2 separate regions of the Homo sapiens genome follow, and region 1 is linked to region 2. A link means that fine-mapping ties the variant in region 2 to the expression of a gene that starts in the linked region. Tissue or cell type: lymphoblastoid cells. Region 2 holds a variant in brackets; the other region holds the start of a gene. All regions are shown on one strand. Distances are between the middles of the regions.

Region 1 (8,159 bases), 85 kb before region 2:
TATTTTACATTGTAATGATTGAAGAAGGAACTCATTGGCTTTTTTTTTTCCTTTTAAGTTTGATGTTTACTGACTTCCTTTCTCCAAGTCTTAGAATTGGAAATGGACTGATGAACCCTCTTGTGTTTGTGACTGTGTTGCATCTGTTTATTGGTGCAGCAACTCTTTTCTGAGCACCTTCCGTTCTGGTTCCTAAGTATGCAGTAGTTATCCATACAGGCCCTGCCCTCAAAGACCCTGCAGTCTAGACAGGGAGAATTGCAGCACAAAGTGGTAATGACTCTGGAGATTTAAACCCAGGGGGCCTTGGGAGCACATAGGAAAGGCAACCAAGCCCGTTGGATTTGGGGAGTGGGAGGAGATTAGAGTTGACTCCCCAGAAGAAATAACAGATTGTAGGCCTTCCTTTTAATGTTCTTTCCTTTCTTTTCTATCTGTCTTTAAAAAAACTCCTGGGGGCTTCTTTTGGGAAAAGATGAGAAATCAACATGAAGAACTCTTGTCTTAGCGCTGACTATGATCCCCAGCATATTACTCAATCCCTACTGATCTCCAACATCTGGGTCTACAGGACCAGTAATAATAGAGTAGAATAGACCTCAAAGTATTATCACGAAGATTAAATTAGATAATGTGTGTAGAAGTACTTAAAAAACTATAAAGCCCTGTAAACATGTCTGCTGAAGGCTTCAATTCCAATCAACCTACATAATCTTTTCCAGCTAAACGGATATTCTTGGTTCTACAAAGTCTTGACTCATGTTGAGCAACTGGGGAAAATGTCACTTTTCAATATAAATAATAATTGATAACAATAACATGTGTGAAGCCTTCATTAAAAAGCAGACCCTCTTTAGCTTTAGAATGGAGAAAACATGTTGTTTTTTAAGGCATCATTATGTCCACCTGTTGGATCACTTGTGAGAAAAATAACAGTTGGTGTAATTTCTTGCCACGTGGGAATCTATTTGGGGGGGTTCCTCTTGCTGGTCTTCACCTTTGTGTTGGTGTTCCCTAGGCTTCTGCCCTTGCTCAGTCCTCTTCTGAAACCCCATCAGAGGTCAAAACAGAAGAACTTGCTAGAGCCACATGCTGATAACTAACTTGAGTGAAGTGAGCAGGACAAGTGGGCTGGAGAGTGCACACTCCACCTACAGGAGGCAGCCTTGGCTCAGTGTCAGCCGACCCCTTCAAGGGCCTTGATATTCTCAAATGGTCAGTATTTTTCAGTGTGAATGTGAACTCACCTAGTTTGTAAATGCTCCTCCTGCCCCTTGACTTCCTAACCCAAGTCTTAGTCACTTCAAGGCTTTGCATTTTACCTAAAACGAAAATTACTTCCCTGCTTAAATCCTGTGGCTGGCTCCCCATTGACTAGGAGTGGAGTTCAAGTTGTAAATTCGGCCCCTACTGGCCTGTTCTCCAGCAGGAACCACTACTGGCTCCCTGCCATGCCACACGATGGCTGCTATGGGCAGGCACCTGCTAGAAACAGTGTACACAATGTGGATCCAGGCACAGCCCCTTCTCTTAAGTTGCTACCAGTCTTTTTGACATACTAACTGGTAAATAGGCCTCAGCACACAGCGATCTCATAACCTTCTGTTGGGCCCTGTCCTGGCCCACTGCTTAATAATTACGATGCGTTTATGGACTCCTTGAGGAAAGAAACTGGTATTTGGAACACAGTGGTTGCTCAATGTTTGTTGAAAGAATAAATGAATGTGATAAAGTTAATTTTAGTTCACCTCTCTGTAGTTGGATGTTTTTAGGTTTCATATGACTATAACTTTAAAATAAAACCTAGTTATTTAAAAATTCAACTAACCAGACTTCACCACAGGTTTTTTTGTTGTTCTGCTTTTTACATTCATATTTAAGAAGAAAAAAAAATCAAAACAAAATGGAAGACAACTACCACAAGTTCTTCTACACCTACTGCCTCTAACACATCCACTGTTACACTCTGGGGTTAAGTCAGGTCCTGTTCATTGTCTTAGCATTCTACAATTTCCAAATTCTAGGAGGAGAATTGACATTCATGATGATCCTAAAATGCAAGCTATTTAAACAAGGAATGATTTTAAAACCATCATTAAATTAAAAATCAACTTGGAAAATATTGAAAAAAGATTAAAAGGTTTTCTAATCCATTTTGTTGCTCAAAAAAAAATCCAATTAACCAAAATTTCCTAATTTTGAATGGTGAAGTTTGACTGGCCTGTACCATGCTAAGATCAGCACGTGCTTATTACCGTAATCTCTTGTTCTTCAAACCAATAAATGCTCCCTTTAAGGACAGGTTGGATTTGGTTATTTCTTGTTATACTGACATTTTTTCCCAAAGAAAGAATTTACTGATAACATACTTCATCACACAATGTTCACAGAAAGATCTTGACAGATTTTTTCAGCAGGAACAGCATTTGCTGCTGGTGTTTGTGTTTTTTTCATTTGATAATACTAACATTAATATGATCCCCCAGCTTCTGTGTCTCCCACCCTGAGTAGCTTTAAATGAAATACAGCATACAGAGACTTGTTCATAATTTCTTGATCTTTCATTTATTTAGTGTTTCTAGAAGGAAAAAAAAAGATGTTTTAAAGCTCAAGGGACTTAACTATAAAGTAGAGGGGAAAAGGTAGAAATACGCGTTGAGGAAACCCAGGAGGCCCCCAGGCATGACTTTTGCTATAGCTTTCCAGAAAGAGAAAGTGGTGCTTAAAGAAGTAATTCCCAATGTTTCCCTCCAGACTAAAATTGGATGAACTCTGAACTGAGACTCTTTGCATCTCATTTTCTCATTAGGTTTTATTACAGCCAACAAAACTTTCAGTGGTGAATTACTTCCCTTCTCAACAGAATACCAGACTCCCATAATGTCTACACAAACTGAAATAATGAAATGGTTTTTAACCAAGCTTTAGGGATTAGAGAGGAAAAAAAAAGTGAAAAAGAAAGGGCACCAGGGTCTTCCCATCTCTATGCTAACCAAAGTGTGGTTTTCCAGCCCTTTTTCTTGCCTATTAACAAAAATAAAAACAAAAAATGGAAATGCCACTGGGCTTGAAACCCCATTTAAAATCAGATTTCTCTTTCGAGTTCCCTTGCAATACAAGTCAAAGTCATTTCCACCAAAAAAAAAAAGCGGTGGGGGGGGGGGGTGTGCAAATTAATCCTAAACTCATGGCTCAGATAGGACCTGGTATAGTAAATAAATGCTTTTAAAAGTAGTCATGGCATTGAGAAATGGCTCCATGCACCTAAACCAGAGGCACCAATGTAAAAACTAGTAATTGTGTTTTAACACAAAAGATTGAAAAGCGTTTTGTTTCACATCCTAATATTATTCCACCCACTTAAAAAGAGTTACTTAATATTGACTCTGTATTAGGTATAAGACAAGTTCTTGCCCTCAAAGAACTTATAATTTAGTTGAGAAACCAAAACTTAACATGAGCTTAAAAAGAAGGATGCAGTACAAAACATGGTATAATTAAGTGCTAAACAATGTAGTATAGATGCTCAGTGACCTAGGAGATCAGAGGAAGGGAAGGGTCACTGAGGGCTGGGAATGTCAAAAGCATGTACTTTCAGTAAGTTCTTAAAATGATAGCATGTTAGAAAGCTGTTATAATTGCTGCTGATTTGTAATTTTAAAGCATTGACATGATTCACCATTGCTTTCCAACCAGTAGCTGTTTAAAAGGACATACAGTTGAGGGTGAAAGGAGATATTTCTTTATGATCTCCAGAGATTTGTATTGAGGGGAAAAAAGACATACTTTCTTGTTGAATAATAGACCAAGAATTGAGCATATTTTGCATGGGGAATATTAAATTCAGTGAACAAGAATCCAAACCTCAGGCTGTGATTCTGGTATAAATTTTTGTTTCTAATGAACCATTTTCTTCCTTCTAAAGAAGATTTAAGTTTTGGGAATAAGTCACCTCAAAAAAATTTTTTTTTATTTTCTAATATCTATTTTCACAATTTATTTTTCTTTTAAGAAAAGTGGACTAGAAGCTCAAGTTACCTTCTCAAGGCAATGAGAATTTTTTAGCTCTAAAAAAGTTGTGTGTGGTAGGGAGAACATTTAGCATCCTTTAAAATGGAGACATCTGAACAGCAACCTATCTTTTGAATCACCAAATCTCAAGTGTACTTTGCACTCTTGGTCTTAAAATGCTTTTCATTTTCTAGTTTGGCAAAAATTCCAGTCTCTTTACATTTGCTACCTTTTCCGTCTTTGCAACACAGGCAGTGTGAGCTAAATTAGGTTTGTTAAAATGAAGTTTTGAAGTTTCAACTGCTGAAATAGAGGCATGTCCCTAACTTTAGACAAATTTAGAGAATCGTAGTAAGCATTATTTTTTTTCTACATACTTGTCTGCATTCAGTGTCTTCCCAAGAAACGTCAGTTAATTCCCCGATTCGAAAAAGGAACTTTCTCGTAACAGTTGTACAACCAGGCTAAAGAGCACACCCTCGTCTTCCCTGAAAGGGAGGAAACATGCAATAATGTGAGGTAATTAAATTTAGCCTTAGAAAAGTCTTTGAAACGTTCTAATCAAGACTTTCAGCTTTCCGATTGTGTGCGCTTTATTTTTCAATTCTTCCTAGTCCCGGTTTTGCATTTCTAATGACAGTGAACTGACAAAGCGTGAAAGTGGTCTAAGGAGCAAAACAAAGCCAGCAAGCCTGCTTCTGGTGTGCCAAGATTAATCAATATTCCAGAAACCTCGGGGTTTCCCCCTCCTCCCTGTGCGGTTTCCATTCCCCACTCCTCCTTTCCCGGGCACAGACTCCTCCCCTTTTCTTAAGTTGCCCTGATAGTAACTTGCAGTTTCAGAGCACATGCACACTGTCAGGGCTAGCCTGCCTGCTTACGCGCGCTGCGGATTGTTGCTCCGTTGTACCTGCTGGGGAATTCACCTCGTTACTGCTTGATATCTTCCACCCCTTACAAAATCAGAAAAGGTAAGTGTCACATTCTGTGTTCCTGCTGGGTTTAATTTCTCCTTTCACTTCTCTGCCGATGTATTTTGCCTTCCAAGCAGAGGAGTAGCCTGAATCAAGGCTAGCCATTTTGGTAGATAAAGTCCTTGTTAGTCATCTCACGTCGTGAGAGTGTGGTGTCTGTTTATGCCGGGTCCGCTGTTAATTCGGAGTTGAGTCATTCGGGGTGGATTGGGGGCAGATTGTGGCGCGAGATCTAGAAAAGGATCAAGGTTGAGCGGATCTGCTTAAAAGTGACTGGTAAGAGGAATCAGAGCTATTAGTTTAAAAAAAAAAAAAATCTGGTCTCTCCTATTTCCCGGTCTTCACTTCTCCCTAAGCATTTAATCCAGTGTGAAGTCTTAAACAAATTAGAAGTCTTAGTATCACTGACCCCAACTTGCAATTTTATTTAAAAGGCAAACTGTTAAGACAAGTCTTTTTTTTTCCTGCACTGGGATTGCGAGAAGTCATTTGCGAGGAGTCCTTTGGTTTCCAGTTACCTCCCCCACAGGCGCACACGCTGGCTGCTTGCGTTGGCAGCGACACACATCCATGGTACGGCTGGTTTTCACTCGGATTGATTATGGGAAGGGCTATGGATTAGAGCTCCTGTAAAGCACCAGGAGGAATCCCTTGATTTTTCAGAACAGCTGATTTCCACCAGGAAAGAGATTTACTGAAATGTAGTTAAATAGCGTGAGTGCTTTAAAGAAACCAGAAACCACAAGCTGTAATGTTTGGAATGAAAATTGGTTTCATCTCATCTGTTCTAGAAATCCTAAATTTTAAAACGCTAAAAAGTCAGCGATAGTTTCCTCGGAAGATTCCAGCATGTGTGTCACAAAGAAAAACACTACTTCATACTTCTACTTGTGATAAACGAAGCTGAATTGTGATTTCAGATGATTTATAGATGTGCCCAGAGCACTTTGCTTATTTCATGGAAAAAAAATGAAAAAATTACCCTGTAAAATAGTCACATGTATTTCCCATGTACTGTGGGCACTTGTGTTCTTTTTATGACCATATTTACTAGTAGATATTATTATATTTTTTTCTTAATGAAGAAAATAGCTGGTTACTTTACTGCATGTAACAGAGACAACTCCCACCTATCAGTATCTTAATTATTTTTATTGACCTGGTTATGCTTTCAACCATGTATACAGCATAATTTGTCAAGTAATGATTGAATACTTTCTGTGCATTCAGTTCAATTGGACATTTACTGATTGTGTACGTTGTGCAAGGCATCAGCTGGGTTCTGCGGGGGAGGGTGGGAATAGGGGTTCTCAGTCAGATCTAGCTCTGAAGAACCCTTTTATAGCCTCATTGGAAGGGGAAGGACGGATTTTTAAAAAGAAAATAGAATATATTCCGAATTTATGCACATTTCTCACACGTGGTCCACTAAAATATGCACACTGCAACCTTGAGGTCTGGTATTGTGGCTCTCCAGTCCTTGATTCCTGCTGAGATTATGCAATTTGCCAAGAGCTTGCCTGGTGTGGAGCAGCACTGATTTCTCACCCCTGGAGGCTATAACTCATGTCTCTTTTTCTCCCATTCTAGTTGTGTTTTCTAATACCAAAGAGGAGGTTTGGCTTTCTGTGGGTGATTCCCAGACACTGAAGTGCAAAGAAGAGACCCTCCTAGAAAAGTAAAATATGACTAAAAGCAATGGAGAAGAGCCCAAGATGGGGGGCAGGATGGAGAGATTCCAGCAGGGAGTCCGTAAACGCACACTTTTGGCCAAGAAGAAAGTGCAGAACATTACAAAGGAGGATGTTAAAAGTTACCTGTTTCGGAATGCTTTTGTGCTGCTCACAGTCACCGCTGTCATTGTGGGTGAGTCATTTGATTAAAAACAAAAAAACCTGTATCTTGTTTCTCTGGGGCATCTGGCTGCCCGGGGAATATTATCAGATGAACTAGTTGTAGGTATCAAAATGGTAGCCTAGGCTTTCCTCTGAACTTGATGATTTTTCTCCATAAAAATGACTGTTTTGGCTTGTTTGGAGCAATATATAGTAAACACATCATTAGGCATCATTAGGCATTATGCAAATCAATTGTGTGAGGAAGAAAAATAAATAAAATATTTTCCCATTTCATGTAAGGATAAGGAAGTGATCATTTAATCATTAGGCATGACAAAGCAAGCATGCTAGATTTGGCCAAAATGTAATTATATACAATGTCAGTTGCACTTAAAACTAATTTATACAATTAGTACACCTAAAATGACATGTTGGTTCCAAATAGTAATTATATTCTAACTGGTGCTGACTTGAAGCTGAGTATCAACGCTTAGGCACAGAGACCGAATATTTTATGTGTTTGCACTCTCTCACCCAGCAACTGGGAAAGGTAGATTGGGGAAAATGTTAACACAGATCTCTTTCATTCATTGCTTTGCAGAGCCTGCCATAACCAGCTATACCTTTTTTTGAATCATTTCCATCTCTTACTAATTTAGCAGGGTTGACAGCAATCTGTACTAATAAAATATTATTGTTTTGTTTTGTTTATTGATCTTAAAAGTTATAGTTTATTACTTATGGGTGGCATTGATCCTACTTTAAAATATAGCTGAAAAAACCTACTTATTTGGAATTTTTGACCAAACCAATACAGAAATCCTTAGATTGACAAACATATACGCCAATGCCAGGTTGTAAAAATATTCCAACTTAACCTACCAATTTGCCACCAAAAAAGAGGCATTCAGTACCGTTTTAATCTCTACTTTGGAGTTTGCCAAGATTTCCATCAACTTTAAAGAGGTAATGATTTAATAAAGATTAAGAAAATTCTGTAGTGTGTAAATATAACTTTTTTCAAGAAAATTGAATTCTTAAATTGTAGACAAATGAAGTATAGCAGGAGAGTTTGTCACAAGATTTTAGATACATCCCATTTTAACATCATTGTCTTCCATTAGTAATCACTGGTGATTAATGATGGTTCAATTAATTTAGAGATATTCAAAGAGAACATGTCCTAACTGACCCAGAGAAGTAATGGCTTTCCACAGTAGGTTTCCAGGCTTGAATATATTCCTGGGTGAAATATTTCAGTCCCACATCATTGTCCTGGAAGTCAATGCAAAATACAGTCTGCTTGCCTCATTTGTCACTCTGAATCAAAGTCATT
Region 2 (8,199 bases):
AGTCCTCCAAAACACAAGGGAGGATTTTGGGTGGCCAAAGTGTACAATTTTCATCCCACAATTGAAATTTTTAAATCATTTCATGTTAGTCTTACCGAATAAGGTACCAAGATCACAAATAGTGTTGATCAGATCTTACAAGTTTATGTGGCACACAATCCTATAAATGTGATTTTTTTATATAAGTTAAAGAGACAAATAGTAGGCTAAAAACATTTTAAAATCAACTTTTGAAATTTAAAAATCTTTCAGAATACAATTCAGTTTTAGTTTCAAAATGTTAACAACTTGAATTACAACCGGTTATCAGTTGGACAGTAAGATTTTATCCCTTTCTCTTCTGACTGGTATACCTATTTCATTAGTAGCTAGGTGCACATATACATCTAGCACAGCTGTGAGGACAGACAGAAGGCAAAGTTTCCATGTGGCCTTGAGCAAGTCCCATCTCACCTCTAGGCCTCAGTGTCCTCATCTATAAAATGAGGGACTTCCCTAGAAGTCTTCATGGTCTCTTCCAGCCCAGACATCCTGTGATGTCATGAAAGCACCTGCCCTCTGTTTCCCCTCAGAACACCCTGTACCATCCATGGAGCACGAGGCCTTCAGAAAAGACACTTCAATGGGAGTGAACATTTCTAACTAAGGACAGGATGGCTGTGTGTGGTGGTCACCAGGTCCTGTGAGCAAAGTGCAGGTTATGCAAGTCGCCAGGCAGGAGGCCATTCCAGGAGTGGGATTATTCATCAAACTCTTTGCCCAGTTCATCCCAATGGGGGAAGTATTCCCTTCTTTCCTACTCTGGGAAGAATGTCTCCTGCCACTCCTCAACTGATGATAGACTTCGAAAACAGATGAGAAGACTAGCAGCTAGCAAGGGTGCTTGTGGTCACACTGTGGAACACTAAAGAGCTAGGAAAGAGTTGAGCACAGGCAACATTACAAACAAAGGATTTGAAAACACCAAGAGTACAGGTCTTCTTTAAGGAAGAATAAAAAAGAAGAGGTTCATTTTTCTGGCTTTTTTTTTCACCTGAAACACTTTTTCTCGAGTCCAAAATCATTCCCCCCGTGAAGTCTGCTTACCAAAACATAAGACGACTTATATATTTGAAAGAAGTCAAATGAATGAGCTCTCTAATAGAAGTCCATGAGTTGAGTGGGTATTTCTTATTTGAAAGTGTTTTTCTTTAATCAAAAGTCCTTAGAATGAGGGAAACAAAATATTTATTTGTTTTGGAATCCCACTTATCAAATCATTCAAAACTTTCAGCTGGAGTGGGGTTTGCTTTTGTTTTGTTTGTGTCCATAAGAGAAATGGTAGAAGATGAATCAGTATGAAGACACTGTCAATGAGGTTATGAGAAAAAAACAGCAGGGGCATTAGTTTCAGGCAAGGCAGCTCCCAGGTTTAGAGATTAATTTTTACCCCCTAAGGAATATCCAGTCAAAGACGCTGAGTGGGAGCTGTCAGGCAGTAGCAGCTGTGTTTGAGTTTCTGGCTGAAAATGGTGAAGAATGGACTTAATTATGCTAACAAACTGAAAAATCTAGACATAGATCCTCTGATATACAATTAGAGATATTTTTATATAGACCCCAAGCATTCTGTGCATAAAAGTTAACATTAGGCTGTGGTGCAGTAACCATTTAATGTCGAGGCTCTATTTCGGAAATACACTACAAATGTTAAAGTACGTGGCTGTCCTCTTAAGACACTAGTAGAGCAAAGACTTAATCATATCAACTTAATTCTGTTACACAATATGTGTTTTTTAATATACTAACCATTTCTTATGGAAAGGTCCTGTGGGGAGCCCATCCTCTCGCCAAGCCATCACAGGCTCTGCATACACATGCACTCAGTGTGGACTGGGAAGCATTACTTTGTAGATGTATTTTCAATAAAGAAAAAAATAGTTTTACATTAACATCTTTGCACGTTGTTGTTATTCTTCTCCTCAAAGAAAAATACATTTTCCATTCATGGAAATATTACAATAAGCTCAGGGCAGTCTCTGGAAGGATCCCATGCAGCAAGGTAAAATCTTGGCAGAGCCAGCCACAAGAAAATAAGTAAGGACATGCTCTCCTGCTCAACTCCAAGAACTGGAGCTGGAAACAGGAGGAGGTGAGCGGAGCACTTTGCTGTAGCAGGCCATACTTCCTTGTCCATGTCAGATTCAAATTTCTCAGATGAATTGAATCATTTCCATGTCGGGATTAGAAAAGTGTGATACCACCATGGGCCCTTCCGAAAAAGTAACTTCCTGTCTGACCTCCAAATTAGGTAGATTTATCTCTGTGATTATTACCACCATTTGTGAAAAGAGCTAACTAAGATCTCAAGGGATTTCCAGAAACAGCCATTGTGCTGGTGCTCTATTCATTAAGAACAGCTTACGGATGACTACTTTTCATCATGCTTTTTAGTAAAGAATTCGCAGGCAATATCATGAAATCTCCAGATTGAAGTAGTGTCTGGAGCCTATAATCTGACCCTCTCTACCAGCAGGTGGCAGCCACCTAGAGGAAAGGCTCTTAAGTTGGATCCATGGACCCCTAGGTCATCCACATGAGAGTTCAATAGGTTCATCGCCCTTGAAGTTGTGGGGAAAGTTTTGTGCATTTGCCTTTTTCTGGGGGTAAAATTCTTAATTTCAATCGGTTTCTCTAACAGATCTTACGACTAAAAAAAAAAAAAAATTTACAAATCGCTATGTTTGAACCATACACCCTAACTTTTGTGAAGGCATATGTGGTATTTACATGACCAGTTTGGGAAAAGAAAGGCTGCTCACAAACTGAGGGAACCAAGCCTGGCCACCCTGAGCAGATCAATATTTGCCCCCTGTGAAACGTTCTGGGAAGTGCCGCATAAAATCAATCCACTGCTAGGAAGTGCTCCCTTCTGCCGGGACCATTTTCTTCCCTTCTGCAGCCCACGCTGGGTTTTGGCCACCTCCACAATGCAGACATAAGAAGCAGGTCATCTGCCTGTGGGAGGTCTGTGGAAAGCCCCTTATGGTTAAGGGAAGTGCCTCTCAGCCAGAGTATGACAAAGAGGGTGGAGAAGCAGGCCTTAGATCCCAACATGTGGTAGTCACACATGTGCTCACAAATGGAACTATGAAAAATATGCAGGTTCACAGCTTTTTTTTTTTTTTTTAAGATACAGGGTCTCACTCTGTGATTATGGCTCACTGCAGCCTCGAACTCCTGGGCTCAAGCGATCCTCAGCCTCCCGAGTATCTAGGACCATAGGCTCACACCACCACGCCCAGGCTAATTTTTATTTTTATTTTTTGTAGAGACAGGATCTCGCTATGTTGCTCAGGCTGGTCTCAAACTCCTGGCCTCAAGCCATCCTTCTGCCTCAGCCTCCCAAAGTGCTGGGATTACAGGAGTGAGCCGCTGCACCCAGCCTCTGGCTGACATTTTTTAAAATGTTTCTTATAAGTTATTACATTTAACAAAATATTTAAATCCTACCCTCAGAAGTTAGGAGTCTATGTCCTCCTGTATCCACATTCATCCTGGTACCACCACTGTCCCTTCCCACCCAAGCAAAATTCTCCTTTTCAAGAGAAAAAATCTCACTTTACCTCACTATACCTATAAGTAAAGGCATAGAAAAAAAAGTAAAATCCTTGACTCATCTACACAGTGTTGAAAACAGAAGTGTGAGTTCTGTTAGCTGAACGGGCCTGGAGGAAGCGTGGCGGGAAGGCTGGATCCCCGCCGCAGGGGCTGCGGGGCTGTGGCTGCCTGCGGGCTGGGCAGGGCCGGGCGCACGCCCTCCTTCCGGGTGGCCGCGGGCCCCGACCCCAGGCTGCCGTCAGTCGAGCGGCCTCCGCAGCGGCCGCGCTTCCCCTTCTCCCACCCGGGTGGTCCCAGAACTGGAGCAACAATGGCCGGCTCTGTGTGGCCGCGTCCTGGGGCCAAAGCAGTCGGGACGTGTCACGCCGAGGGAGGGCTCCGAATGAATACGCTGACAATAAGAAGGAAGGGAGAGCGAGGGAGGTGATGGGCAGCGTCCTAGAGGGAAAGCGGGAGATGAGAAATCTACGAGATCCGCGAGGCGGCGTCCGGGGAGCGAGCCTCATAGTGGCCACCAGGGGGAATGCGGAGCTCACCTTGGGCCGCTTCCGCGGGGAGCTCTAAAGGGAGCTGGGGCACTTCCTCTTAGAGATCTCACTTGGGTAACATCGAATTCCAAGTCTGCAGTGCCGAGAGGGAGCAATCTGTGAAAGCCATCAAGTCAGGTTTAAAATTCCTCAGTGCCCCCATGTCACTTTTCCCTCTGTTCACCCTGCTTCTTCAATAGCCTCCCCAGAGGACCCCCTTCCTTTCTGGGTATCCTGTTTTGTCTCCCTTGTGCCTCATCTCCCTTCTCTCCCATCTCCTCTTCCGGATTCTCATCTCCCTCTTCTGTCACTTACATGTTTTGCAGCTACAGACAGGTACTCAGAAGGTGGCATGGTAACG[G/T]TTTCCTGCAGGTCATGTCTCATCGTGCCCACAAAACTGCTGTCTCAACCTTCAATTTTGAAACATTCACAGCATGCTGAATTCCACATATAAGTAGGGTTGTCAGATAAAATACAAGACACACAGTTAAATTTGAATTTCGGGTAAATAACAATGTTTTAGTATGAGTATTAAATAACAATGTGGTGGTGTAAGTATGCAAAATACTGCATGGGGCATCCTGTAATTTTATGTGTTAATCTGGCAACCCTCTAGACACTTGAAATGTGGAACTCAGAACAATTTGTATTTGCTTCAATGAAGCTGATATTATAGGTGAAAGAGGTTGCTTGGAGTGGGGGGATCTTCATTATAAAATAATCACCCCCATTTTGAATTTTTCTCTGAAAGCAAAAACATGCTTTAAAAAGCAATTTAGATCTAACATCTCCTACTATTAATTGTTCTGGTGACATTATCACTTATTATGTGCTTGTAAATCTTGTGGCCATAGTTAAAAAGCTTGATGAATCACCTTTAGGATTTCACAAAACTGTCTTGAATAAATTAAGCAATACCTCAGTTATCCATAGTTGAGATATTTAAGACTGACATCTGCTTTTGTTTTCTTCCCTCTCCTATTTTCTTCTTTCCTTCTCTCACTCCTTACTTCTACCCTCCCCACTGCCCCAACATAAAATATTTTCTGTAATCCATTACAGGGCTGAAAATTTTGGCATTCACATATTGTTCTCCAAAGACGGACACATTTTTTTCATTTGGGGAGCACCTATTAGAAAAGCACCCATTTTTTTTCATATTGTGCTATTCAAAGTTGATTATTTTCCAGTCTCTGTAAAGTTGAGAATGAGGCATTTTTCAGTCTCTTCAGGGAACTCCAGCCTCCATGAATGGGAATCATTCCCAAAAAAAACCCCTTTTTAAGCCAAGTCTGAAGGATATGAAAAAACAGGACCCAACTGACACCGCACAAGGGGAACAAAATCAAATCATAAACTCTTTCCAATAATGACATATGCAAAATCATGTAAAGATGGTAGTGAGTGTCCTAGAAGATGGTGTCAGATGACAACTTTTTTATTTCTTTTCCAACTCTTAGCTTCAGAGGATCATAAGTCCTGGAAGCAGCCAGCCAGGAGCTTCCAGACATAGCTGTCACAGGGGAAAATAAAGACCATTTGGAAGTCAGCTCAGCCCTGCACAATGAACTGATGACTGGCCTGCCCTGGGGAGAACTCAGCACGCAAAGATTTTTGTCGGCAACACAAACCTCTGAATGCTATAACCAAATTCCCCTGCCCTTGGCACTCCAGTGCCTCAGTGAGGCCTTCTTTCATTTAAGCCCATGAGGAGCTGTTAGCTAAAGAAGTGGAAAACAAACATGAGAAAGTCAGCAGGCATGTTAGAAAACTCACATGGCTAGACTAAAAATAGCTTTACGCTTCCTAAAACTTAAAGGCCTTCCGCTTCAGAGTGGTGGTTGAACTCAAACTTCTACACGGGGATGGGTTGAATCCACACTTGTTATACCTGAATTCTTAAGCAGTTCAGAGACCCTGGCTGGTCCATTCCCTGCACCTCAGCATCCTCATCTGTAGATGTGGGGATTGCATGAAACCTACCGTCTCCAAATCAACTTTCATATCAAGTGTCTGTGTATTGGAGGGGATGCTAGAGTTAAAACGCTTAGTTAAATGGTCAACTGCCCTTAGCATATGATAGGTTAAACTTCAACTTCCCTATCGTAAATGGGTATCATAATACCTTCTTTATTATGGTGTAATGAGAATTAAATAGATAATAACTAGATATAAGATTCTCAGCACAGTTCCTGGCACTCAGGGAGATTCTTAAGATGTTCAGAACAACACTGGCTCAGTAGGGAGGAAGAGGCACGGGGTGACGCTGGAGGAAGGGAGAGTGGCTCCCGGTGCCATCTGGACCTGCTGTGAGCTGGAAGGAACTCCCCGAGGAGGCCACAGACCTACATTGCCCGGGGGGGACGCTTTGCGGAGGTCGTCACCCCTGGAAACCGGCATCATGAGACACTGCCAGGCTTCTTCACGGAGGGGCCCGGGCCTCTGCGCCCGGGGCGGCCCAGCAACCCCTGCTCGCCTCCGCAGAGGCCTTTTGTCCCGCGGGCTCTCCCAGCGGCCCCGCGCTGCGTGGCCGTTTTGTGAAGGGCACAATCCGATGTTCTGAGGAGACCACCCAGCTTCCTCTCCCAGAGTCTACCAGAGAACAAAACCGCCCCTTCGTGTGCCAGCGACCTCCCCTTCTGCCAGACCCCCTCCCACTGGCCTCCTCCCTGCCCTGCCAAGCGGGGACGGAGAGCCAGCCGGCCCTGGCCCGGTGGGAACCCAGTTGATGGTGCGCTTATTAGCTGTCCTGAGCGCGGGGACAAACTTTCTGTACCTGGGCCGCTGCTGCCACCCTGCGGCCAAGACCTTTCTCTAGGCCCCGATGACCCAGAGCAGCCCGGACCAGACAACGTGCAAAGAGGAGCGCTTACAGCAAACTCCTCCCTGAGGGGCTCAAGGAAGGCTGGAGAGCCAGGAAACAGTTCCGATGGCTGAAGGAAAAAGGAACTCATGCTCTGTGGCCACAGCACTGATTCTCAAAGTGTGGTCCCACAACCAGTATCAGCATTCCCTGGGAACTTAGAAATACAAATTCTCAGACACCACCCTAGACCTACTGAATCATAAACTCAGAGGGTAGACCCCAGCAATCTGTTTTTTGGTTTGGGGGAGTTTTTTAGAGATGGATCTTGCTGTGCTGCCCTGGCTGAAGTGCAGTAGTTATTCGCGGGCACAATCATAGCGCACTGCAGCCTGGAAGTCCTGGGGCTCAAGTGATCGTCCTGCTAAAGCCTCCCAAGTAGCTGGGACTACAGGTGCATGCCACCTTGCCCTGCCCAGCCATCTGTCTTAAGAAGCTGACCAGGGGATTCTGATGCACACCCAAGTTTGAGAACCACTGGTCTAGACTCTAAAAAGAAACAGACCTCAGAGGTGACAGAGCAGGATGCTAATCCTGGCTTTGCCTATGAGCTGTGTGACCTTGGGCAAGTTTCTTAACCTCTCCTTGCCTCCTCTGATTCCTATCATGATGAAAATCATTCCTAATTTCCAGGATTGTTGAGGATTAGATCAGAAAGAAAGGTGAAGTCACTGACATATATTCGTGCTTGATAAAAGGTGCTTGCTTCCGGTGTTATTATAATGGGGTCATAAATGTGCCCGCATTAACACTAGAATGTACAGAGAAAACACAATTCCTCTTTTCATTTATTTAGCAGGTATTTATGGGATGCCTACTGTAATGGGCAATGTTGATAAAGCCCCTCCCTCCAGGGAGGTACATTTTAATATCTGTGTAATATAGGGTGCTATGGACTGAATTGTGTTCTCCCACCCTTCACCAACATTCATATGTCAAAGCCCTAACCCCCAATGTGACTATATTTGGAGATGAGGCTTATAGGAGGTAATTAGGGTTAAATGAGGTCACAAAGATGGGGTCCAAATCCAATAGGATTGGTGGCTTTCCAAGTACAAGGAGAGAGAGAGAGATCTCTTTCCACAAGCACACACCAAGCAAAGGCCATGTGAGGACACAGTGAGAAGGCAGCTGTCTGCAAGCCAAGAAGAGGGCCCTACCAGAAATAAGTCATGCTTAGAGGGTCAGAGGGTCAGACAGAGGCATTCC

The links. PIP is the estimated chance that this variant, and not a neighbour inherited with it, causes the effect.
Region 1: it holds the start of SLC1A3, and the variant in region 2 is fine-mapped to the expression of SLC1A3 in lymphoblastoid cells (GENCORD, PIP 0.95).

The regions. Positions count from the first base shown.
Region 1 is chr5:36,601,754-36,609,912 of GRCh38, forward strand. SLC1A3 (solute carrier family 1 member 3) reads left to right here and starts at 4,853. Exons shown (of 10, transcript NM_004172.5): 1 at 4,853-4,982; 2 at 6,576-6,851. The coding sequence starts at 6,671. RefSeq lists an enhancer at 4,960-5,059.
Region 2 is chr5:36,686,404-36,694,602 of GRCh38, forward strand. SLC1A3 (solute carrier family 1 member 3) reads left to right here. Exons shown (of 10, transcript NM_004172.5): 10 at 1-1,931. All of the region lies in intron 1 of SLC1A3-AS1 (SLC1A3 antisense RNA 1), which reads right to left. Among named protein-coding and RNA genes, the nearest start is that of SLC1A3-AS1, 35 kb to the right of the region's middle. RefSeq lists an enhancer at 3,007-3,236 and a silencer at 3,692-3,891. The variant G/T (reference allele first, on the strand shown) is at 4,489.